Homo sapiens: one gene and its partners. The protein of the gene in region 1 purifies or fractionates together with the protein of each later gene. This does not show direct contact. Each region holds a gene or a part of one and is shown in the gene's direction. Other genes may lie near its edges. The genes, in order: LDLRAP1, CCDC85C and NLN.

Region 1 (7,716 bases):
CAATTTTAGTTTTATTAAAATATGCGGCTGGGCATGGTGGCTCATGCTTGTAATCCCAGCACTTTTGCAAGGCCGAGGCAGGCGGATCACGAGGTCAGGAGTTCGAGACCAGCCTGATCAACATGGTCAAACCCCTGTCTCTACTGAAAATACAAAAATTAGCTGGACGTGGTGGTGGGTGCCTGTAATCCTAGCTACTCAGGAGGCTGAGGCAGGAGAATCACTTGAACCTGGGAGGCGGAGGTTGCAGTGAGCCGAGATGGCACCACTGCACTCCAGCCTGGGCAACAGAGCTAGACTCCAACTCAAAAAAAAAAAAAAGATGGAGCTAGACTCCATCTCAAAAAAAAAAAAGTGTATATATATATATATATATATATGCAACATATACATCACTTACTATATGCCAGGCAGAATTCTAAACATGTCACAAACATTAACTTTTGTTAATGTCCCAGCCTGTAGGTGGGACTACAGGCGCCTGCTACCACACCCAGCTAATTTTTGTATTTCAGTAGAGAAGGTGTTTCACTATGTTGGCCAGGCTGGTTTCAAACTCCTGGCCTCAGGTGATCCACCCACCTGGGCCTCCCAAAGTGTTGGGATTACAGGCGTGAGCCTCGGCACCCAGCCTACATTAACTTTTAATCCTCATGATGACTCCATGAGGTGTAATCCCCATTATTCTAGTCTATTCAGGCTGCTCTAATAAAAATACCAAAGGCCGGCTGCCTTATAAACAACAAAAATGTATTTCTCACAGTTGCAGATGCTGGGAAGTTCAAGTTCAAGGTGTTGGCATATTCGGTCTGGCGAGGGCCGGCTTCCTGGTTCATAGATGGCTGTCTTGTCACTGTAAGAGTGAACAGGGCCAGGAATCTCTCTGGGGTCTTCTTTATGCTCATCCCATTCATGAGGGCTCTGCTTTCATGAAAGGATTACCTCCCAATGGCCCCATCTGCTGATACCTTGAAGGTTAGGATTTTGACATACGAATTTTGATAGGACAGAAACATTCAGTCCATTGCACCAATTTTACATTTTAGAGGAAACTGAGGCCTGTGGAATTTAAATAATTTGCCTAAGGCCATGCAGTAAAGAAATAGGGAAGCCTGGATCCCGGGATGCAGCATCAGTGTGCTTCACTACTGCGCTCTGGTGTCTTCCACTAATAACTCCCATTTTACAGATGAAGAAACAGAGGAAGGGATTGGCTCAGGGAAGTAGGGAGGACAGACCACCTGAGGAAACCAGGGACTCTCATCCCAGCTTAGGCTTTTGTCTTGGTCCCACTGCAAGCCCAAATGATGGCTGGAGAGAGGCTGACAGCCCTGTCAACTCCTTGGCATCCACTATCTCGCTGGGGTCCTGTGGGTCCACTGAGGAAGAAATTAGTAAGATTGTAGCTGATGCCATTTGACTAAAGACAAAAGCCATTTATTCTTATAGGTAGCTCCCCGACCCCGTTTATTGTTCTTTTTCTGATTACTAAAGGAACATGATCACTGCAGAAATGTTTACAAAGTTAGAGCAGATAAACAGAAAACCAAACAAAAGAGAAAAGAAAAATCCCCTTTCAAGCCCCTCTTGAATCTCAGGACTTATTTTTTTCTTTTCTTTTCTTTTCTTTTTTTGAGACGGAGATTCGCTCTTGTCGCCCAGGCTGGAGTGCAGTGGCGTGATCTCGGCTCACTGCAACCTCTGCCTCCTGGGTTCAAGCGATTCTCCTGCCTCAGCCTCCCGAGTAGCTGGGATCACAGGCATGCGCCACCACGCCCGGCTAATTTTGTATTTTTAGTGGAGACGGGGTTTCTCCACGTTGGTCAGGCTGGTCTCAAATTCCCGACCTCAGGTGATCCGCCTCAGTCTCCCAAAGTGCTGGGATTACAGGCACGAGCCACTGCACGCGGCCCTACTTCTTTGCCTCCTCCTCGTTGTTATAAGCATCCAAGGTGGGAGGCAGGAGACCTGGCATCTGTTCCTGGCTTGCTGTGTAACCTTGCGTAAGTCCCTGTCCCTCTCTGGGCCTTAGGCTCCTCATCTGTGAAATGAGGGTTTGGCCACAGTGACCTCAGAGGAGGCCACTCGCAGCTCTGACCTTCTGTTTCTGCTTCTGTTTCTGGGATTGGCAGAAGGGGCACTAGCAGGCTGCCCCTCTGCAGGGGACACATGGCTGACAGCTCGCAGCAAGCCATCTCCGGGAAACTGCAAAGGCTGGTAAACAGTTCTCGTTGCACACGCAGCGTTCCCAGGCCTTCCTGCTTATCAGGCCCATATGGTGCCCCCTGCCAGCCGGACACCACCAGCTGCCCTTGGCCAGTCTGCCCTGGGTGATCACTTTTCCTCCCTGCTTCAGAATGCTCTCTCTACTATTCCAGAATCTAGCTGGCTTGGGATAAGTGAGCTGGGGGCACTCAGCCCTGTGGACCCATCTACCTATTGCCACAGCCCTTTTGCAGAAGGCAGCCTGGTTTGGTGAAAAGCTGGAGAAAGGGAGAAGGGGAGGAAAGGAGGGAGGAAGGACAGGAACACTGACTGTGTTCCAACTCCATTTGGACCCCTTACTAGGCATTTGGGATTCAGAAATGAATCAGAAAAACTTCCTGCTTTTGGAGGGTACAAAGTCTAATGGAGATGAGAGGAGTATAAACAGGCAGCAGTAGTGCTTGCAATCCTGAAAGTTCAGGACTGTGGGCGCCCACAAAGAGAAACTTAATCCATGGGTGGTAGTCAGGGAAGCCTTCCTGGAGGAGGCAACTTTAAAGGTGGGTTCTCAAGAACAGGATTCAGCCATTCCAACTCCTGTTATTTAGTCCTTAAGGACAGCCCTGTGAAATAGATATAGTTGTCCCTTTTACAGATGAGGCTCAGAAGGGTGAGTTCACAACCACCAGAAGGACAGCTGGGTTCTAACCCCTGGCATTATACTCTACCCCATTGCCTATGGGCCTGAGTCTGATCCCAGTCTCTGACTCTCGGAGACTATCAGTGAATGCTTCCCTCCCTGACCTAGGGCTGTCATCTGTAAAGTGGGTCCACCTAAGCAGTGTTGCTGGGGAAGCCAAGGACAGACTGGCTAACAAAGCACTTGGTTTATAAACAGGGGAATGTCAGTGAGGCCGCCCTATCCAGCTGGGGACAGCACAGCACTATCTTTCTCCCGACACAGAGAGGACTGCTGGCTTCTGAGCCAGGAGTAATTACAGAGGTTGAAGTTGGCCTTGCCTGAGGCACCCCCTTCTAAAAGAAGCCAGGCTGTGGCTTGGATGTGTGTGTCCTCCCTCTGGCTCCTTTTGGCACAGTTTGAAAGGAAGGCATGGCATCCTAGAGAGTTAGAACAAATCCTTCCAATCCTGGAGTTAGAACATCTGTGCCTGAGCAATTCTGGGGTTCAGACTGCCCTCCGAATGCTCCTAGGAAGCAGCTTGGGGTCAGGGTCAAGGTCATGCAGATTCTTGACCCTGGCAGGTTGGAAGGATCACTAGAGATAGCATTGACTCTCATTCACAGATAAACAAGACTCAGAGAGGGGAAGTACTTGCCTGAGGTCACACAGCAAGTCAGTGTCAGGGGCACGTTCCAGATCATACCATCTGTGAGGCTACCTGGGAAGTTGCGGGGGCATGGGGTGGCCCAGCATGCTCAGGTGGTGCCAGGGAGCAGCCTGGGAGCTACGAGGATGAGTAAAGTGCCTGGCTGGACTTGCTAAAGGCAAATTTTTATATACCGACCCTGCGCCTAACAAGGGTCTATACTGCAAGCTTGTCCAACCTGTGGCCCACTGGCCATGTGAGGTCCAGGACGGCTTTGAATGGAGCCCAACACAAATTGGTAAAGGTTCTTAAAACATTATGAGATTTTTTTGGGCAGGGTGTGGTGGCTCACAGCCATCCCAGCACTTTGGGAGGCTGAGGCGGGCAGATCACTTGAGGTCAGGAGTTCGAGACCAGCCTGGCCAACATGGTAAAACTCCATCTCTATTAATAATACAAAAATTAGCCAGGCATGGTGGTGCATGCCTGTAATCCCAGCTACTCGGGAGGCTGAGGCATGAGAATAGCTTGAACCCGGGAGGTAGAGGTTGCAGTGACCCGAGATCGCACCACTGCACTCCAACCTGGGCAACAGAGTGAAACTCTGTCTCAGGGGAAAAAAAACAATACAGAAAAACAAAAAACATGAGTGTGTGTGTATATATATATATTTCAGCTCATCAGCTGTCGTTAGTGTTAGTGTATTTCATGTGTGGCCCAAGACACTTCTTCTTCCAATGTGGCCTAAGGAAGCCAAAAGTTTGGATATCCCTGGCTTACAGCCTCCACTATTTCCTAAGTCTCCCACTGCCCTGGACATCGCATTGCTTTTGTCCCTGAACAAGATCTTTCACCACTGGAGGAGCCCTCAGTCTCCCCATCTGTAAAATGGTCACTGGAAATCCTAGGCCGCTGCTCTCAGGCCCTCAGGCCCCTACGGGGTGGGGATTGGGGAAAAGGAGGAAAGCGGGGGCGTCTAGGGCTTGCGATTTGCTATCTTCTGGCGCCTTCGGGCGGCCTCGGAAACTCTTGGTGCCTGGACCTGGAGCCTGGACAGGGACCGGGCGGGGCGAGACCGGCCGTCGGGGGCGCGGCCCGTCTGGGGGCGGGGCCTGTCCTCTCTCGCCCCGCCCCGTCGGACGCCGCGGCGGAGCTGGCGCTGGGAGGGGAGGAGCGCGCAGCCCGCGCGCCGCAGGGCCGGGCGGAAAGTTTTTCCTGACGGAGTTTTGGCTGCGGCAGCGGCGGCGGCGGCCGGAGCGGGCCATGGACGCGCTCAAGTCGGCGGGGCGGGCGCTGATCCGGAGCCCCAGCTTGGCCAAGCAGAGCTGGGGGGGCGGTGGCCGGCACCGCAGTGAGTGTGCGCGCGTCAGCCGGGCCGGGCCGGGATCGGGCAGAGGCGCGCGGGGCCTCCGCGGGCGCCCGGAGTGCGGCCAAGTTGGGCAGAGGCGGGGCCTCACCGGCGCTCCGGTCCCGGCGTGGCCCTTTCCCGGCCCTGCGGGGCAGGGGGTCGGCCGGGGTCAAGTTGTGCACCTACTCGCCGGCCGCTCGATGCCGCTGCGAGGAGGGGCAGCGCTGAGGAAGGAGCCCGAGCTCGGGGTCCTCAGGTGCAGCCGGCATGGGGTGGGGTGCAGGTTGGGAGAAGAGGCCCCCGCCACCCGCGGCACCTCCCGCCCTGCTGTCCTGGCCAGCTAGGGGGAGGCAGGCGCTCGTCGTCGGTGCCTAGGGGAGGAGGAGAGGGCGCAGGGGCTTGGGAAGACGCCCCCGTCCCGCACCCCTGCGCCCCAGCCAGCAGCTGCGGCGGTCAGGAGCCCACTGGCCCGTTCTCCCGCCCCCTGCCCGACCCACCGGGCCAACTTTTGACTCCGGGTGCCCAGACACCCATCCAGGTGTGAGCCCGGGGTCGCAGGTACGTACTTGAAATTGGGAACGAGGCCCCGCCTGGGGTGCCTCGGGAGAGCCCCACATCAGGCGATCTAGACCCTTACGTCCCTTCCTCTAGCCGGGTCCAGGTGGCAAGCCTGGCGTCCCGACTATTTTTGAAACCTGTTTTCTCTCGCACCTTTCCCCTCGGGCTTCCAGAGTCCCTTGGGTGCCCAGGCAAACGACAGACTCGCCGCCACCTCTCCCTGGGGCGTCTGGGAGGCTGGGAGGGGCCTCCCCCCCTTTCTCTCCCCCAGTCTCTGATTACGCTCAGGGAACTTGTCACCTGGCACCTTCCCCTGAAGCCAGAAGACCCAGCCTAGCGCAGGTCTCGTTGTTTGGGAGGGAGAAGAGAGTGGCTTGCCTGGGGTCACACACACCTTCCTGCTGGTTTTGGAGCCAGAGCCCAGGACTGCTGCACACTCCCACCTCCCTGCCACCTACTTCGGGCCACAGCTTCTCCCCTCATCAGGAAACAACTGACAGTACAGCACCCCCTCATCCCATCCCCTCTTGGCCTTACAGGGCTCTGCCAGGGGAGCCCGAGCTCCCTGGTCCAAGGAGTGCCAGCGTGTCTGGGCCTAGAGGGCCCGCCTCCCTCCTCCTCTGGCCCCACTCTGTTGTTCAGCTGTGGCCGCCTCCCAGCTGAGACTGGCATTGGCATTGGGAATGTGGGGTGGTGCCTGCTGGTGGGGGGTGGGGTCAGAGACCCATTAGGGCTGGGCCACTAGGCCAGGGGATGTACCGTTTATCACACTGATTGCATCCCAAAATAGACCCTTTAAAAACTGGCAAGATTTGACCAGGACTTCTGAGATGGCCATCTGTTCCAGTGGGAGAATCCTGCGGGTTTTCTCCAGGAATGAGGGAGGGAGGGTGGTGGGGCAGCCCCCAGGGAAGTGGTTTTGAAGGAAGGGGGGCTGGCAAGGGAAGGGAGGCTAGAAAGAAATATCTCTGAATCTGGGGACGTGGAAGAGGTAGCCGCTTTGGATGTGGAAGAGAATTTCTCTTGCCATCTTCAATCTTGAGCAAGTCACTTGTCCTTTCTGATCCTCGGTTTCCTCATCTGCAACATGGGGATAAAAACTCTTACCTGGCAGGAGTATCAAGGAGATTATTGGTAATAATGCTCCCTCCTAACTGGTGGCTTTCTTCTCCCCTGCTCCTCTTCCCCCTGCCTATCCTTGGGACGCTGCCAGCATGATTAGTACTGTGGTGAGATGGGTTTTGGGGGCCCCGAGCCTGTCTGCACCTTTGGAGGAAAGGAGAGGAGCACCTCTCCCCCTCCTCCAGGCCCTGGTAAGCCCAAAGTGCTGTCCTGGAGCCTCTGGATCTGAAGGAGGGCAGGCCGAGCCCCACCTGTCCCTCGTGATGAAGTCTCAATTTCCTCACCTGTAAATTGCAAATAACAGTAGTACCTGCCTCCAGCTGTTTGTGGGGATCAAGTGGAATTGCGTTTGCCTGGCATAGAGGAGGAGTTTGGTAAATGGTAACTGCTGCTTTTGTAACTGTTTTACAACCTGTTTTTGCTTCCATTCTCTCATTGACTCCTGTGAGGTGACAGAGCAGACCCATTTTAGAGACAAAGGAACTGAGACTCTGAGCATTGGAGTCATTGGCTCCAGACACAGAGCATCTAAGAGGCAGAGCTCCACATTCCTAGCGCAGGGGTCTTACCAGTGTGCTTGGTGAACTCTGCCATGGGAGGAGCTGGGAGCAGGCCCCACCTACCCCACGCTGGGCTGGCAGCCTCTGACAGCAGTGGCCACAGGTTAGAGCAGGGGCCATGGGGTATGTGGGGGTGGGGGTGCTAGGGTCACCTTGCTCAGGGTTGTGACCCAGCCTGGCCTTGGACCTGGTCCCTGTGGTTGAGTTTTGAGGCCAAACTGAAGCCAGTGGAGTTAAAGTTAGACTCGAACCCTGCTCTCAGTTGTGACCTGCTCCTCCTCCTCAAGGTCCTCACTAGGATTAGCATGAGCATTGCTTATTTGTGGAGAAAGAAGCCCAGAGAAGGGCAGCACCTTGCCTGAGGTCACACAGCAAAGCCAGCACCCCAGGCTTCTTTCCACCCAGCTTCATGCCTGCAGTGGATTCCTGGTTGTCCTGACCTTGAAAGAGGGCTCTCTTCCTCTCCCACACATGGCTTTTCCTATCCCCTGGGGAGACATCAATATTTTATCTCAGTCCCTGGCCAGGCATTTTCCTTCCAGCTGCCTGGAAGAGGGGCTCACCTTGGCCCCTCAGCACTCTTTCCAGAGGTACT
Region 2 (8,070 bases), on another chromosome or scaffold:
GCAGGGAGACTGAGCTAATGACATGCAGTGTTCTATCAGTAGAAATAGCTGGAGAGCTCTGACCACAGGTGCCATCCAGAGGCGTCAGAGCCACTGAGGCTTGGTCACAACATGGAAAAGCCTGAAGCAGGAGGAAGTGGGTGGTGAACATGGGTCCAGGCACCTTGCAGACACTCAGCATCACAGAACCAGAGTCACAGCAGAAGAGACATCGCAGAGCATCCACCCCATTCCTCCTTCTTGAGAAGGGAAACTGAGGTGTGGGAGACAGTAGTCTATGGGGTCAGATACACTCTGGAGCTCAGATGGTCCTGGGTTCAAATCCTGGTTCAGCCACTTGCTAGCCATGTGACCTTGGGCAAGTGACTTAACCTGTGTGAGCCTCAGTTTCTTACTCTGTAAAATGGGAACAGAGGGTTCTTACCGCATCAGTGAGGAGTCAGTGAGACAATCTATGTGGAACTCTAGCACAGTGCTGGGTACCTAGAAAGTGCCCAGTCAACATTGTCCATATTAGTAACACTTAACCACTTTTCAGTGGACCCTGACTTCTTGCTGCTGGTAGCCTTTCAGGATGATACCTCATAGTCTGGCCCAGACCTGGTCAGCCACCATTGCCTCACTGTCCTGAAGAAGATTCAGCTACCACCAAACACTTTGTTGGCCATACCAGAGTCCTTGGGTGTCCACAAGCCTCTGAACACTGCCTGTAAGTTCACGCCCAATGAGCTGAGCTTCTTGGAGGCAAACAACCAGCCAATAAGAACCCATGTTCAATCCTCGAAGGGCTAATGACACCTCCTCATAGGTTTATTATAACCCTCAAAAGAGGACAGGTTAGAATCATTGGCATATACTGAGTCTAGGATAAGCGGCAGGTGGTGTTGGTTATTGTCATTGTCATTGCCATTATTATTAGATATCAGAGCTCCCAGGGAAAGGGTCCAGCTTCCTTCTGAGGCTTACAAAGCCCTCCTCTGCCCAGCTCCATCGCTCAACCTCTTCCCGACTTTCCCCACCCTGCTGTTCCCTTCTGTATACCCCAGCTGCAAGGTGTAATAGTGTCTCTCCACACCCCTCGCCTGCTCACCTCTGGGCCTTTGCTTGTACTGCTTCCTCCACCTGGAGCCTCCTCCCCACTCCACAAGACGACAAACTCCTTCAAGATTCACCTCCTCTAGGAAGCCACTCCCAGTGCCTGAGCATGCTCCCACAATGATGTGTTCTGCCCATTCTCATTTGCAGTACTTACCACAATGCATTGCAATGTGTATATATATATTCCCATTTAAATGTGTTTGTGTATAAATGCATATATACTCATAGATTTCCTCTATGTTCAGTGAGCTAATGAATGAAAGTGACCTTGGGCCAGGCATCTCCCTTCTGGGGCTCTGTTTTTCCTCACCTTCAAAATGAAGCCTCAGACTCAATCTGTCACGTACTGAGAGGTTTGACATTCACTCAGCAAACACCAAATGGTACTGCCTCTGGGGTTGGAGCTCACAGCCCCAACCATAGAGAAGAGTAAGAAAGTCCATTCCCCCTGAAAGTGAGGGGCACACTCTGCTTGTCACCAGCTTGTACCAGTACTCCCCCCACAGGCCCTAGGTTTTGGAGTATTTTGTCTACCATGTATTAGCATCTACCGTGTGTTAGCGTACCGGTTCTCAGCCCCTGCTGGCTCTCACAAATGTGTGTGGCTCTAAATGAACACACACATCCTGGGAGAGTCTTTAAAAAAAGGGGGGTAGAATGTTGGTGGGGCACCTTTATTTTGAAAAGACTCACAGCTACTTTCCCTGGGCACCTACAGTATGACTGTTAGTGCACCATGATTTGGTTTCACTGTTTTCATAACAAAGCAGAGTTGTCATGACCAAGGGGCTTAAGAAGCAAAGTCACTGAGGCAGGAGAATTGGATTGCTTGAGCACAGGAGTTTGAGACCAGCCTGGGAAACACAGTGAGACTCTGTCTCTATGGGGGAAAAAAGAAAAGAAAAGAAAATAGCCAGGCATGGTGGTGCCTGTGGTCCCAGCTACTCAGGAGGCTGAGGTGGGAGGATCTCTTGAGCCCGGAGGTTGAGGCTGCACTGAGCCAAGATCATGCCACTGCACTCCAGCCTGGGAGACAGAGTGAGACCCTGTCTTAGCCAAAAAAAAAAAAAAAAAAAAAAAAAAGGCAAAGTCACGTTGACATTTTGGGATCCTGGTTCTGTTGGGCTGTGAGTACTCCAGGGGGCATGGCACCTACTGCTGGACCCTGCGATATGGGCCCTCCGGGAGGGGGCTCTGGCCTGGGGAGTCCCTTTTCCTTCAGGACGCTGTTTCAGCCCTGGGCCCTCTCACCTCCTCTGGTCCTGTCCTGTTCTGCCCAAGCATTCCCAGCCCTGGTGTGGGGAGCAGAGAGACCCTCCCTCAAACCACCCAGTACCACCACCACTAGCACCTTGTCTTTGTTCTACCCTGAGGATGTGAGCAAAGCTATCAAGACTCCACAGAGGAACTCTTGGTCCTTGGTCCACACAGCCTGTAGATGACGCAAACAAACCCCACCTAGATAGAGGCTTCACTTTCTTCTTGGAAGTTCAGCGGAAGCTGCCAGCTCTGGAGGATCAGGGGGCAGAGATAACAGGCCCCAGGAACCACCAGGAGCCATGCACGAACGGGGAGGGGGTTCTCACAAAGCACAGTGCTGTCTCAGCAACTTCCCTGGTGAGCTGGTGGGTTTTTCCTATGGTGTATCCAACGTTTACGCTTCGATCTCCAGGGAGCAACTCTGTGCACAGGCTTCATTCTGCAGGGAGCCTGCAAGGAGCTCCTTGAAGTTAATATGGCTTCCTGGGGGTTGAGACAGACCTGCAGCTCCCCCAGGCAGAAGCTGAAAGCCCCTCCCTCTCTAAACCCAAACTGAGCTGTGCTGGACCAGCAGAGCAGTGCCTCAGAGGGGAGGATGTCCCCTCCCCTCAGGAGCTGGTTCTCTTGGGCAGGGCCTGGGAGACCCTCAGCATCCCTGGGGTTTAACCTTGGAAGCTGTGCTCAGCCCATCCTCTCCCCACCACCCTCCCCTGACCATCTGTCTGGAGAGAGTGGCGAACGGGTGGGAGATGAGATATTGAATCTGGACCTCTCTGTGTACTCCCCTCCATCTCTTCTCAACATGTGGGCCAGGGTGAGCCTCTTAAAAAGGTAAACCAGGTCATGTTGCTTCCCTGCTAAAACCCCACTGCCTCCCCAGCTGTCTTGGAATCATACATGATCTGGCCCCTCTGACCTCTGACCTCAGCTCTCACGCCTCTTCCCTGGCCCACCCCCAGCCCCACTGGCCTTCTTGGAACAGGTCTGTAACAGGCCAGCCCTAGGGCCTTGGCACTGGCTGTTCCTGCTGCCTGGAATGCCCTTCCCCTTATCTTTGTACCTTGCCAATCAGACTTCAGCTTAGATGTGCCTCCCCACCTCCCTGACCGCTGGATCTAAAGCAACTGATTATGCTTTCTATGACAGCAGCTCGACTTAATGCCCCGCACAGCACTTAAGACAAGTCTCATCCTGATCTAGCTCGTCTATCTTCTCCCCATCCTGCTCCCAGGACGCCAAGTCCCCCGCAGAGGGCAGTTCGGTGCCCTGCAGAATCCCCCGGGGCTGGAGCAGGCCCCGCGGCGAGTAGGCGCTGAGTACACAGCTGAATGAACGGCTTAGCAACTGTAAATGGGGCATCAGCTGCTGCGCGGGCGCGCGCTCCAGGCCGTGGGCCGCTCACTGTCGCGTGCGCGGATTTGATCTCGTTGCAGGTTCCGGGGGAGGGACCCCCCCCCGCCCCGCCCCGCCCCGCCTGCTGGCGGTAGACGCGCCGTAAATGCGCTTTGGGGACCGGAGGATAACGAGACAGACTTACAGGCAGTGGGAAGCCCGGGGGTCCCGCGAGGCCGCCGGTGGGGAGTTCTGTGGCCGGCTCGGCGCCCCCGGACCCCGGCGTTCAGGCCCCAGTGGGAGACCTTCCCACCCTTCCCAGTGGTTTCCACCCCGCGAATTGCAGATTATCTCCCGAATCCCAGGGATTTAGCGGTCGAGTGAGCGGAGGTGGAGCGGGGCTCCGAGCGCCGCTCCGGGCAGGGGGCAGGTTCCCGGAGCTCTCGCCCCATCGGGGCAGAGAGTACTGACCGCGCTGCGGGACGCGGCTGGCAAGGCCCTGGCCCTGCAGGGGCGCGGACGCCAGCGTTTAGCTCAGCCCTGGGCTAGGAGTGGAGACGCAGCCCCGCCGCGTGCTCCGGCAGGGGACCCGGGTGGGGACGGGGGCGGAGGAGCCTGGGGGCAGGGAAGGGGACAAAGAGCCGCCCTGCTGCGGGGAAGAGCGACCCCCATGTCACAGTCCTATTGTTCGCTGTGTCTCCGACTGCCCTGAACTCTGGTGCCCCCGGGAGGGAGAAGGGGCGCCGTCGCCCGGATCGTGGGTATTTGTTTATCTGGGGAGAGGGAAGAGGACCGGGGACGCGGGCCGGGGAGGGGGCTCGACTGCTATTTTCGCGCGTCGCCTTTAAGGGAAGCCCGGCCCTACCTTTCCCACCGTCCCCCTCCCCGCAGCCGTACCTGCATTTTAAAAGCGCCCTGTAGCCCTGGGATTGGCTAAGGCCGCGTCCTCCGGGCGCAGAAACTTGAACCGCCGGGAGCCGGCCGCGGGCGGGGGTCGGAAACCCCGCGGATGGACCGTACCACCGCCGCAGCTTCCCCCGCGCGCGCCCCGCCCCTCCCGCACACCCCCGGAGCGGCCCAATCGCCCGGCCGGGAGGGCGGGACCGCGGCCGGAACGCGCCTCTGAGAGGGCACTGGACGGGCGGGCGCACCGCGCAGGGGGACGGCGGGGGCCGCGCCTCTGCTCCCCAGTCGCCCTCGGGGGCGGGGCCGGGCCTCGGAGACCCGCCCACTCTCCGCCCGGGGTGGGCGGGGCGGCGGGGGCTCCGGGAGCTGGGCCGGGGGCGGGCCTCCGCCTGCTTCTCCAGAACCCTGAGAGCGCCCGGCACCGCGGCCGCCGACGCAGCAGCCGCCTCCGCTCGTCAACCCCGAGGCGCGCGGGCTCCCGGGCGGCCCCGGCGGGCGCGGCGAGAGGACGCGCCAGGCGGCGCGGGGCGGGCCGCACGCGCCCCCGGCCGCCCCCCGCCCGCGCGCGGACCGGCCCAGCGGAGCCCCGGCGCGGGGAAGCGCCGGCCGGGCGAGGGCGAGGGCGATGCCGCGGTGACGGCCCCGCCATGGCTAAGCCCGCGGCGACGGCGGCGGCGGCGTCGGAGGAGCTGAGCCAGGTGCCGGACGAGGAGCTGCTGCGCTGGAGCAAGGAGGAGCTGGCGCGGCGGCTGCGGCGCGCCGAGGGCGAGAAGGTGGGCCTCATGCTGGAGCACGGCGGCCTGATGCGCGACGTGAACCGGCGGCTGCAGCAGCACCTGCTGGAGATCCGCGGCCTCAAGGACGTGAACCAGCGGCTGCAGGACGACAACCAGGAGCTGCGCGAGCTCTGCTGCTTCCTCGACGACGACCGGCAGAAGGGGCGCAAGCTGGCGCGCGAGTGGCAGCGCTTCGGGCGCCACGCGGCCGGCGCCGTGTGGCACGAGGTGGCCCGCTCGCAGCAGAAGCTGCGCGAGCTCGAGGCGCGCCAGGAGGCCCTGCTGCGCGAGAACCTGGAGCTCAAGGAGCTGGTGCTGCTGCTGGACGAGGAGCGCGCGGCACTGGCGGCGACGGGGGCCGCAAGCGGTGGCGGCGGCGGCGGGGGCGGCGCCGGCTCCCGCAGCTCCATCGACAGCCAGGCCAGCCTGAGCGGGCCGCTGTCGGGTGGCGCGCCCGGCGCGGGGGCCCGCGACGTGGGCGACGGCAGCAGTACGTCCAGCGCGGGCAGCGGCGGCAGCCCCGACCACCACCACCACGTCCCACCCCCGCTGCTGCCCCCCGGGCCGCACAAGGCCCCCGACGGCAAGGCAGGAGCCACACGTCGGTCCCTGGACGACTTGTCGGCGCCGCCGCACCACCGCAGCATCCCCAACGGCCTGCACGGTAAGGACTACACGGGCCGGGCAGCGCGGGTCTCCCTGGCTGCAGCCCTTTTCCCAGGCTGCGGCGAGAGGAGGTGGTCCCTGGCTGTCCCACTCATGCGGCCGCCACTCCAGACTCCTCCAGCTGTCATGGATCCTGGGCCAGGGGATCCCGCACTCACCCAAAGTGGGGCTTTGGGCGGTGGTGGGCCGGTTCAGTGGTGGAGCGTCTTTTTGTCCAGCTCAGAACCTGCTGCCGGTCCGGTCCCAGAAAAGTTTCTAGCGGGTGTAGTTGCCAAAATTAGGGTCTGTCACTGCTGGGCTGGCGGTGGGCGCCTCATCCCAGCCTTGGAAATCCTTGCCTAGTAGCGGGAAGTTCTAAACAGCAAAGGATACAAGGCCCCTTGAGCGCAAGTGAATTTCCCCTCTTGCAGCAACAGGTGTCCTCCAAACCAAGCAGCGTCCACGTGTGTGCGGTGGCTGGAGTTCTGCAGTGGGGTGTGGGGATTGGGAAGGTGCACAGGCAGCCGCTTGAGACCCAGAGGCAGTTGGGGAGAGGCCTGGGGCTCAGAGCCTTTCTTGTTTGCCATAAATTCCGCCCTTCTAGTCCTGGGACCTTTCTCAGCCGAGACTCTAAGACTTTCCCGAGGGAGATGTATTTGGAACGGATTCTAGCTTTTCTCCTCTGTGTGCCTCAGTTTCTTTGTCTGTGAAATGGAGATGATGACCTCTGCCTCGTGGGTTTGAGGTGGAGATAAACCTTCTGAAGGGATTTATAAACTGTTGATCGCCTTACAGGAAGTGCCGTGGTCATCCGTGACCAGGGTGTGGGTGGGAGGAACTTTGGCCTCTGTCAGCTTCTGTCTTCTACGCCCATGTTACTGCTGCGCCCAGTGCAGAGGGTGGCCCCAGCTTGGGGCTGTGGGAGCTTGCAGCCTGCTCCCTCTCCCAGCCCCCTGCTCAGCCCTTCTGCTCCCTGCCAGCTTTCTCCTCCTCGCTGGTGGATCCGGGGCCTCCCTGTTCTTCCACGTTTTTTGGTAGCTTGGCTTCCAGTTCTGCTGGTAGTTGCAACTGCCTGAACTTTTTGCCTGAAGGTGGAGAATGAACAGCTCTTTCTGGTTCCCTTTAAAGCCTTTCCTAATTCAGAGAAAGTGTGTCTAAGCCTGCAATAACTGCCCTCCCCAGAACCCCTCAGCCTGAGCTGGGGAGGGACGTTTTCTCCTTAGTTTGGTGGCCAAGTGGCCTCTGCAGACGTGTTGGGGTGGGGGCTGGGGTGGGAGACATACCCATGGAGGTGGGGCAGGGGCAGTGCAGCATGTTTTTCCTTTATTTACCATCCTGAGCCTGTGGGTTCAAGGCAGGACTGGGTTTAGAGGGATATTTTGTTACTGATTAGCAATCTATGGCTACAACTCAGGTTTCTCTTTGTAACACTGTATCCACCCCCACCTCCCACCACAGGCTGCTTCAGGGCAGTGGGAGTAGCGCAAAGTTAGGTGGTTTAATTTGCTGGGGCTGTTCAGAGCACCTCAGCCCCTTTGATTTTGCCGTCCTGGGGGCTTTTGAGGGGTCAGTTATCTGGGCCTCGGTTTCCCTAAGTGCAGTCCAAAGAGCAGATTGCTGCAGTCTCGTGGCTGGAAAGTGAAATGTTTCTGGTTTTCAGCTGCGTCATCAATGACACTTGGCAAGAGTGCCTCTCTGCAGGACACTGGAGGGCTGGAGTGTTTAGAGCATACTTGCAGGAAAGGCTCTGTCGAGTTTTGGGCAAGGAGATGCGGCCCCAGTCTGGCTCAGCATGTCAGCTGCGACAGTGAATAATACAGGAGTGGAGGACTAGGCTACACTGAGTTTTCCACCCCACTGGGGGTCAGTGGGAGGTTGAAGTATAGGGTTTCCCACAGAACCCATCCTCCCCCAAGCCCACTTAGCACAGGACTGCTGCAAATGTTGTGGCAGCAAACCTTGCTTTGGGGTGAAATGAAAATTCAGCATTATTATTACAAATTTCGGTTACAGATGGAATTATTATTATTTAGTTTTGTCTCTTAAAGCCATG
Region 3 (7,099 bases), on another chromosome or scaffold:
TGCAAAGACAGGGGTTTTGAATATGATGGGAAAATCAATGCCTGGGATCTATATTACTACATGACTCAGACAGAGGAACTCAAGTATTCCATAGACCAAGAGTTCCTCAAGGAATACTTCCCAATTGAGGTGGTCACTGAAGGCTTGCTGAACACCTACCAGGAGTTGTTGGGACTTTCATTTGAACAAATGACAGATGCTCATGTTTGGAACAAGAGTGTTACACTTTATACTGTGAAGGATAAAGCTACAGGAGAAGTATTGGGACAGTTCTATTTGGACCTCTATCCAAGGTACTGAGGATCACGTTGTTGGAAGGGACCTTAGGGATTCAGCTATGCCTACTTTAAGACTCTACTCTTGGCCAGGCACAGTGGCTCATGCCTGTAATCCCAACACTTTGGGAGGCCAAGGTGGGAGGATTGCTTGAGGCTAGGAGTTCGAGACCAGCCTGGGCAACATAGTGAGGCCCTGTCTCTACAAAAAATTTAAAAATTAGGTCAAGTGTGGTGGCTCATGCCTGTAGTCCCAGCACTTTGGGAGGCCGAGGCAGGTGGATTGCTTGAGTCTAGGACTTCAAGACCAGACTGGGCAACATGGCAAAACTCTGTTGCTACAAAAAATACAAAAATTAGCCAGGTGTAGTGGTACATGCCTATAGTCCCAGGTACTTGAGAGGCTGAGGTGGGAGGATCACTTGAGCCTCAGAGGTGGAGGCTGCAGTGAGCCAAGATTGCAACACTGCACTCCAGCCTGGGTGACAGAGTGAGACCCTGTCTCAAAAAAAAAAAAATGAAAAATTAGCCAGGTGTGGTGTGCACACCTGTAGTCCTAGCTGTGCTGAAGCAGGAGGATCACTTGAGTCCAGGAGTTTAAGGTTACAGTGAGCTATTATCACACTGCTGCATTCTAGCCTAGGTGACAGAGCTAGACCCTATCTCTAAAAAAATTAATTTAAAAAAAGACTCTACTCTTCCATATTTCTCACATGGGCTTCTTAGTATACAGATTTAAAATGTGGGTCTGAAGCCAGAATGTCTGGCATCATCATTTACTAGGTAGGTTACTTAATTTTTCTGTGCCCCAGTTTTCTTACCTATATTATAGGTCCTATAAACTGGGAATATTAGTAGTACCTGCTTTGTATGGTCACTGTAAGGATTAAATTGGTTGAATACATGCAAAGCATTTAGAAGACTGCTCAGCACATAGCAAAGGCTTAATCAGAGTTAGCTGCTACCATTGTCATTATCATCATCATCTAGTTTGTGCACTACATTTACTTAATTGAATATTGACCACCACCCAGACATGGTGGCTCACACCTGTAATCCCAGCATTTTGGAAGGCTGAGGTGGGCAGATCACTTGAGGTCGGGAGTTCAAGATCAGCCTGGCCAATATGGTGAAACCCTGTCTCTACTAAAAATACAAAAATTTAACAGGCATCTGTAGTCTCAGCTACTTGGGAGGCCAAGGTATGAGAATAGCTTGAACCCTGGAACTGAGATCACGCCACTATACTCCAGCCAGGGCGACAGAGCAAGATTCTAACTCAAAAAACATAAATAAATAAAATTGAGCACCAAAATATTTATTAGATAATCTGTCTGCCAATAATCTATGGCCACTCCCTTCAGTCTGGCTGAGAGGCAGCACAGTTTAGTAGAAGTAGCAAAACCTTTGCAGTCAGTCAGATTTGAGTTTGAATGCTTGAGTGACATAACCTCTTTGAGATTCTGTTTCTTCCTCTGTAATATGGGACTGGAAATCCTTTTACAGGATTGTTTTATGCATTAAAGACTATATGTGCAAATCATCTTCCCCAGATATCAGTGGTAACAATTATAAAAATGTTATAATTGTGTCTATAGCATGTAATAACTATAGATTCCATAGTGTTTCATCAGATACAAAAGGATTTGGATCTCTTTCTCCCCAGGCTACTTTCTAAAGCAAAGTCAACCTCTTACAATTACTAATCATTTAAATAGATCAAAGGAGAGTATAGTATCCCCCTCATTCAGTAATACACACAAGTTTGTAATCCACTGACTTTGAGTGCTGAAAAGTAGGTTGAGTAACTGTGTCATCTAGTTGGTGGGCAGAAGTGTCTTTTAGCACCTAAGTGATTATCCTGGTGTATTAGTCCTTTCTCACAGTGCTGTAAAGAACTGACTGAGACTGGGTAATTTATAAAGGAAAGAAGTTTAATTGACTTACAGTTCTGCAGGGCTGGGGAGACCTCAGGAAACTTACAATCATGGCAGAAGGGGAAACAAACACATCCTTCTTCACGTGGCGGCAGGAAGGGGAAGTGCCAAGCCAACAGGGGAAAGCCCCTTATGAAACCATCAGCTCTTGTGAGAACTCACTCACTATCATGAGACTGGCTACCCCATGAATCAATTACTTCCCACTGGGTCCCTCCCACGACACGTGGGGATTATGAGAACTACAATTCAAGATAAGCTTTGGGTGGAGACACAGCCAAATCACATCACCTGCTGCTTTATGGACTTACTTTCACTAATATTATGACCTAAAAGTAAAACCCTGCCAAATATAGATGAGTCTTATTTTTAAATAAAAAGTATCAGGATATAGTTTTAACCGAAGAACTCTTTCAGGAGTAATCCTTTAATATTGGAGTCTCCTATAACTGTCCTCAGATTTTCTTTCCAGCGTCAAATAACAATTCTTGCTACCTCATTCTGCTGTCTCACTGCCAGGATATAATTAATTTCTTTTGTACTGAGAGATCTGGTCATTGCTACCAGCACCCTGGTGTGGGTAACAGAGAGTAATCTTTGTGAAAGTAGTGACCTAGTTAATACTTACTTCCTGTCATCTTAAGATGTTCTCTTCATAAAGGTAAAAGGGATTAACTTGTTTTATTTGTCTAACTGACTTTTAAAAAGGGTATTCAGAATAGGTTTTAAAAAGACCAGGTACTGTCTGGGTGCAGTGGCTGTAATCCCAGCACTTTGGGAGGCTGAGGCAGGTGGATCACTTGAGGCCAGGAGTTCAAGACCAGCTTGGTCAACATGGTGAAACCCCATCTCTAGTAAAAATACAAAAATTAGGCTGTGCACAGTGACTCACACCTATAGTCCCAGCACTTTGGGAGGCCAAGGAGGGCAGATCACCTGAGGTCAGGAGTTTGAGACCAGCTTGGCCAACGTGGGAAAACCCCATCTCTACTAAAAATACAAAAATTAGCTGGGTGTGGTGGCAGGCACTTGTAGTCCCAGCTACTCTAGAGGCTGAGGCAGGAGAATCATTTGAACCCAGGAGGTGGACATTATAGTTAGCCAGTATCTTGCCACCGCACCCCAGCCTGGGCAACAGAGCAAGACTCCGTCTCAAAACAAGAGAACAAAATTAACCAGCGTGGTGTTGTATATATGTAATACCAGCTACTCAGGAGGCAGAGGCAGGAGAATTGCTTGAACCTGGGAGGCAGAGGTTGCAGTGAGCTGAGATCATGCCACTGCACTCCAGCCTGGATGACAGAGCAAGACTCTGTCTCAAAAAAAAAAAAATAAAAAGACCAGGTACTATTAGTCTTCTGAGCAAAAGAAAAGGGGGAAAGGACACGTACTCCCAAAATGAAGTCTGATAGCTTTTGGAGAATGAAGTCTAATAGCTTTTGGAAAGACCACACAGATACGACACTGTACAAGAATAGTCTAATTGATAGTATAATTTATGCATTTTCCCAGGCTAACTAAAAGCATTCTGTTTCAAAAAGGCCTGTCTAGTTTATAAAAGAAGCTTATTTAATTGTGATTACTGATTCTTTCCTCCTCAAATAAAAGGAAAAACCTTATCGTCAGAAATTCAGTTTTTTATTCCGATTTTAATGAAAAGGCTGCCTAGTGAGTCAAACTGTATCTTTTATTTCAAATGTGGGTTTCAGCATTGTTTAGTGTTTAGTAATCCCATCTTTGAAAAAGAAAAGTAGAACCTCATTAAAATAAATTGGACATTCAGCTGTCGGTGTGACATGCATTCTTCATTCTTACCTCGAGATTTTTCAATAAAAGAAACTTCGGAGCTCACACAGAATGTTAGTGGGGTTATTGTTTGTTTAGCTTTAGTTTTTCCATTTTAGCAAAATAACCTACTTTCTAAAAGGTAAATTAATGTTTAAAGGCATCTCTGGTAACAGATATGGCTTAATGACTGGAAGAGGCCATGCCAGTGTAGTTGCTAGAGGAGAATTTTCCTATGTTGCCAACGCGTGTTTCTGGCTCCTAGGGAAGGAAAATACAATCATGCGGCCTGCTTCGGTCTCCAGCCTGGCTGCCTTCTGCCTGATGGAAGCCGGATGATGGCAGTGGCTGCCCTCGTGGTGAACTTCTCACAGCCAGTGGCAGGTCGTCCCTCTCTCCTGAGACACGACGAGGTGAGGACTTACTTTCATGAGTTTGGTCACGTGATGCATCAGATTTGTGCACAGGTGAGTTTTTTTTTTCCCCCAGTAAACCTGCCAATTAGTTTTTTTAGAAAACTTCTTGACTGCTGTCAGGTTTCTGCTCCTAACAGGTTTTTTCAGAAGCTGAATGTGTTCAAGAATTTTATAGGCCTTCTGCAAAACCAAAATTTTCCTTATCCTGTCCTCTTTCACAACATATTTTTACTTGGAGGTTCATCTACCAGTGAAAGATGTTTGTTGAATAACAGCCTATGGAAAAAGAATAAGACTATCTGTAAGGAAAGGTTACAAATACTTTGCTTTTTCCTTTTAATCCTTTAGGAATTTGATATAAATTTCTCAGAAAAACTGTGCTGTAATCTGTCTCTTCTGCTTATCAATGCTTTGTTTACTTTAGTGGTTTTTCAATCCTCTTAGACCCTTTACTCATTTTTAAATAATAATTTTGTAACATTTGCCTTTACTAACTTCAAATTAAAATCATAGATAATATAGTCTAACCATGCAAAGAATTTGCCAGAGTGGAGGTGTATGTGTGCAGTAGATTAAAACTGATTTTTTTATTTCTGAAAATAAAAAGTACATTTATTCTCAACTTTGTAATACAGTCCATTTAATTAGGCCCAGACTATTCTAGCATGAACCATATGAACTTGCTAACATTTAACCATTATTAACATATGAAAATGTCTAGTTCAGCAATTCACCGTAATAGTTGAAATATACTGTTATTTGGCTGGGCATGGTGGCTCATGCCTGTAATCCCAGCACTTTGGGAGGCCAAGGTGGAAGGATCGCTTGAGTCTAGGAGTTTGAGAACAGCCTGGGCAACGTGGTAAAACAAACAAAAATTATCCAGGCATGGTGGTATGTGCCTGTGGTCCCAGCTACTCGGGAGGCTGAGGTGGGAGGATCACTTGAGTTCAGGAGGTTGAGGTTGTAGTGAGCCATGATTGTGCCACTGCACCACAGCCTGGGTGACAGAGCAGACCTTGACTTAAAAAAAAAAAAAAGAAAACCACCCAAAAAACTGATAGTAACAGAAATGAAGGTACAGTTTTCCAAATTTGAAATCTCTGTATGTCTCTAAAGGTAGACTTAAAAAACAACAACAACAAAAACAAAAACATTTTTATTAGGATACTTTTAGATTCATAGAAAACTTGCAAAGATGATATAAGGATTGCCTGTATACCCCTCAGCCTCTCACCCCTACTTGTAACATCTTCCATTCCAATAGCACATTTGTCATAGCTAAGAAGCCAGCATTGATACAGTACTCCAGACTGAACACCACAGTTTATTTGGATTTTACTAGTTTTCCTTAATGGTCTTTATACAGAGAATCTTCTTAAATCCATACGGTGTCCTCACTGAATATAAATAGAAGAAATTTTTGTATTTTTCAAGTGATAATGCTTGGATATGACTATGCAGTAAGACATAATGAAGTATGCTGGAGGTTTGCACTGTATGGAAGTAACCCTGAATGGAGCAGCAGCAAGTGCAAACTGATGGAAGTGGTTTATGTTGTCAGCTCAGGTCCTAGAACAGTGCTGACAATGGTGGCATGAGGTTCCAAAATGATGAACACCTCCTGGGAAACTTCAAAAGAAAGTAATCTCACTTCAACTTACACAGTAGATCCTAGTACTTGTAGTCTTAGAAATTAAAATGGTGTAAAAAATGCTTCGCAAGGCTAGGCATGGCAGCTCACACCCACAACCCCAGCACTTTGGGAGGCCAAGGGCGGCAGATCGCCTGAGCTCAGGAGTTCAAGACCAGCAACATTGTGAAACCCAGTCTCTACAAAAGATACAAAAATTAGCCAGGTATGATGACACACACCTGTAGTCCCAGCTACTCAGAAGGCTGAGGCAGGAGGATTGCCTGAGCCCAGGAGGTCGAGGCTGCGGTGAGCTGTGATCGCGCCACTGCTCTCCAGCCTGGGTGAAAAAGTGAGACCCGGTCTCAAAAGAAAAAAAAAATGCTTTGCAAAAATATGTACAGTGGGGTTAGTTTCTCGGTTTAGTTACAGCTAGTTTTTTTGATTTATGTGAATAGTCCAGCAGGGGGTATGAATGACGAGCAGGATATGGAACAGTCTTTTTGTTGTCCTGACATGTGCAGAATCAGTCCTGTGCATCCAGCATCCCTATATCCCAGAGTAGCCCTAATCATTGTAATAACCCAAAATGTACCCATTCATTTCCAAAATAATTCTGTCACCTTTGTTTAAAAACTGGTTCTTTCAACATTTTATCTTTAACCTGGTGCTTCCATCTTTTGTTTTAAAAAACAGAGGGGAATAGTATATGAGTATGTCCAGAGAAATGTCCTGATATGGCCATTTTTAATCTCTCTTTAATCCAAGGAAAATAAATCTTTCAGAATAATCTTTCTTTCTTAGGTGTTTTTAAAATTCATTTTCATAGCACTGACTGGGCGTGGTGGTTCATGCCTGTAATCCCAGCACTTTGGGAGGCCGAGGCAGGAGGATTGCTTTGACCCTAGGGGTTCAAGACCAGGCTGGGCAACATGGTGAAAACCCATCTCTACCAAAAATAAAAAAAATTAGCTGGGTGCGGTAGTGTGGCTAGGCTTTGCAAGGCTAGGCATGGCAGCTCACACCCATAACCCCAGCACTTTGGGAGGCTGA

What was found.
Region 2: the proteins of LDLRAP1 (region 1) and CCDC85C purify together in Homo sapiens (affinity purification with mass spectrometry; 3 studies listed by BioGRID and IntAct, with this or other methods). This does not show direct contact.
Region 3: the proteins of LDLRAP1 (region 1) and NLN purify together in Homo sapiens (affinity purification with mass spectrometry; 3 studies listed by BioGRID and IntAct, with this or other methods). This does not show direct contact.

What each region holds. Positions count from the first base shown.
Region 1 is NC_000001.11:25,538,903-25,546,618, forward strand, and holds the start of LDLRAP1 (low density lipoprotein receptor adapter protein 1), read left to right. Parts: upstream 1-4,703; 5' UTR 4,704-4,796; coding exon 4,797-4,884; intron 4,885-5,048; exon of another isoform or gene 5,049-5,439; intron 5,440-7,716. UniProt on the Homo sapiens protein: Adapter protein (clathrin-associated sorting protein (CLASP)) required for efficient endocytosis of the LDL receptor (LDLR) in polarized cells such as hepatocytes and lymphocytes, but not in non-polarized cells (fibroblasts).
Region 2 is NC_000014.9:99,601,133-99,609,202, reverse strand, and holds the start of CCDC85C (coiled-coil domain-containing protein 85C), read left to right. Parts: upstream 1-4,995; 5' UTR 4,996-5,243; coding exon 5,244-6,036; intron 6,037-8,070. UniProt on the Homo sapiens protein: May play a role in cell-cell adhesion and epithelium development through its interaction with proteins of the beta-catenin family. May play an important role in cortical development, especially in the maintenance of radial glia.
Region 3 is NC_000005.10:65,788,192-65,795,290, forward strand, and holds part of NLN (neurolysin, mitochondrial), read left to right. Parts: coding exon 1-293; intron 294-4,262; coding exon 4,263-4,464; intron 4,465-7,099. UniProt on the Homo sapiens protein: Hydrolyzes oligopeptides such as neurotensin, bradykinin and dynorphin A. Acts as a regulator of cannabinoid signaling pathway by mediating degradation of hemopressin, an antagonist peptide of the cannabinoid receptor CNR1.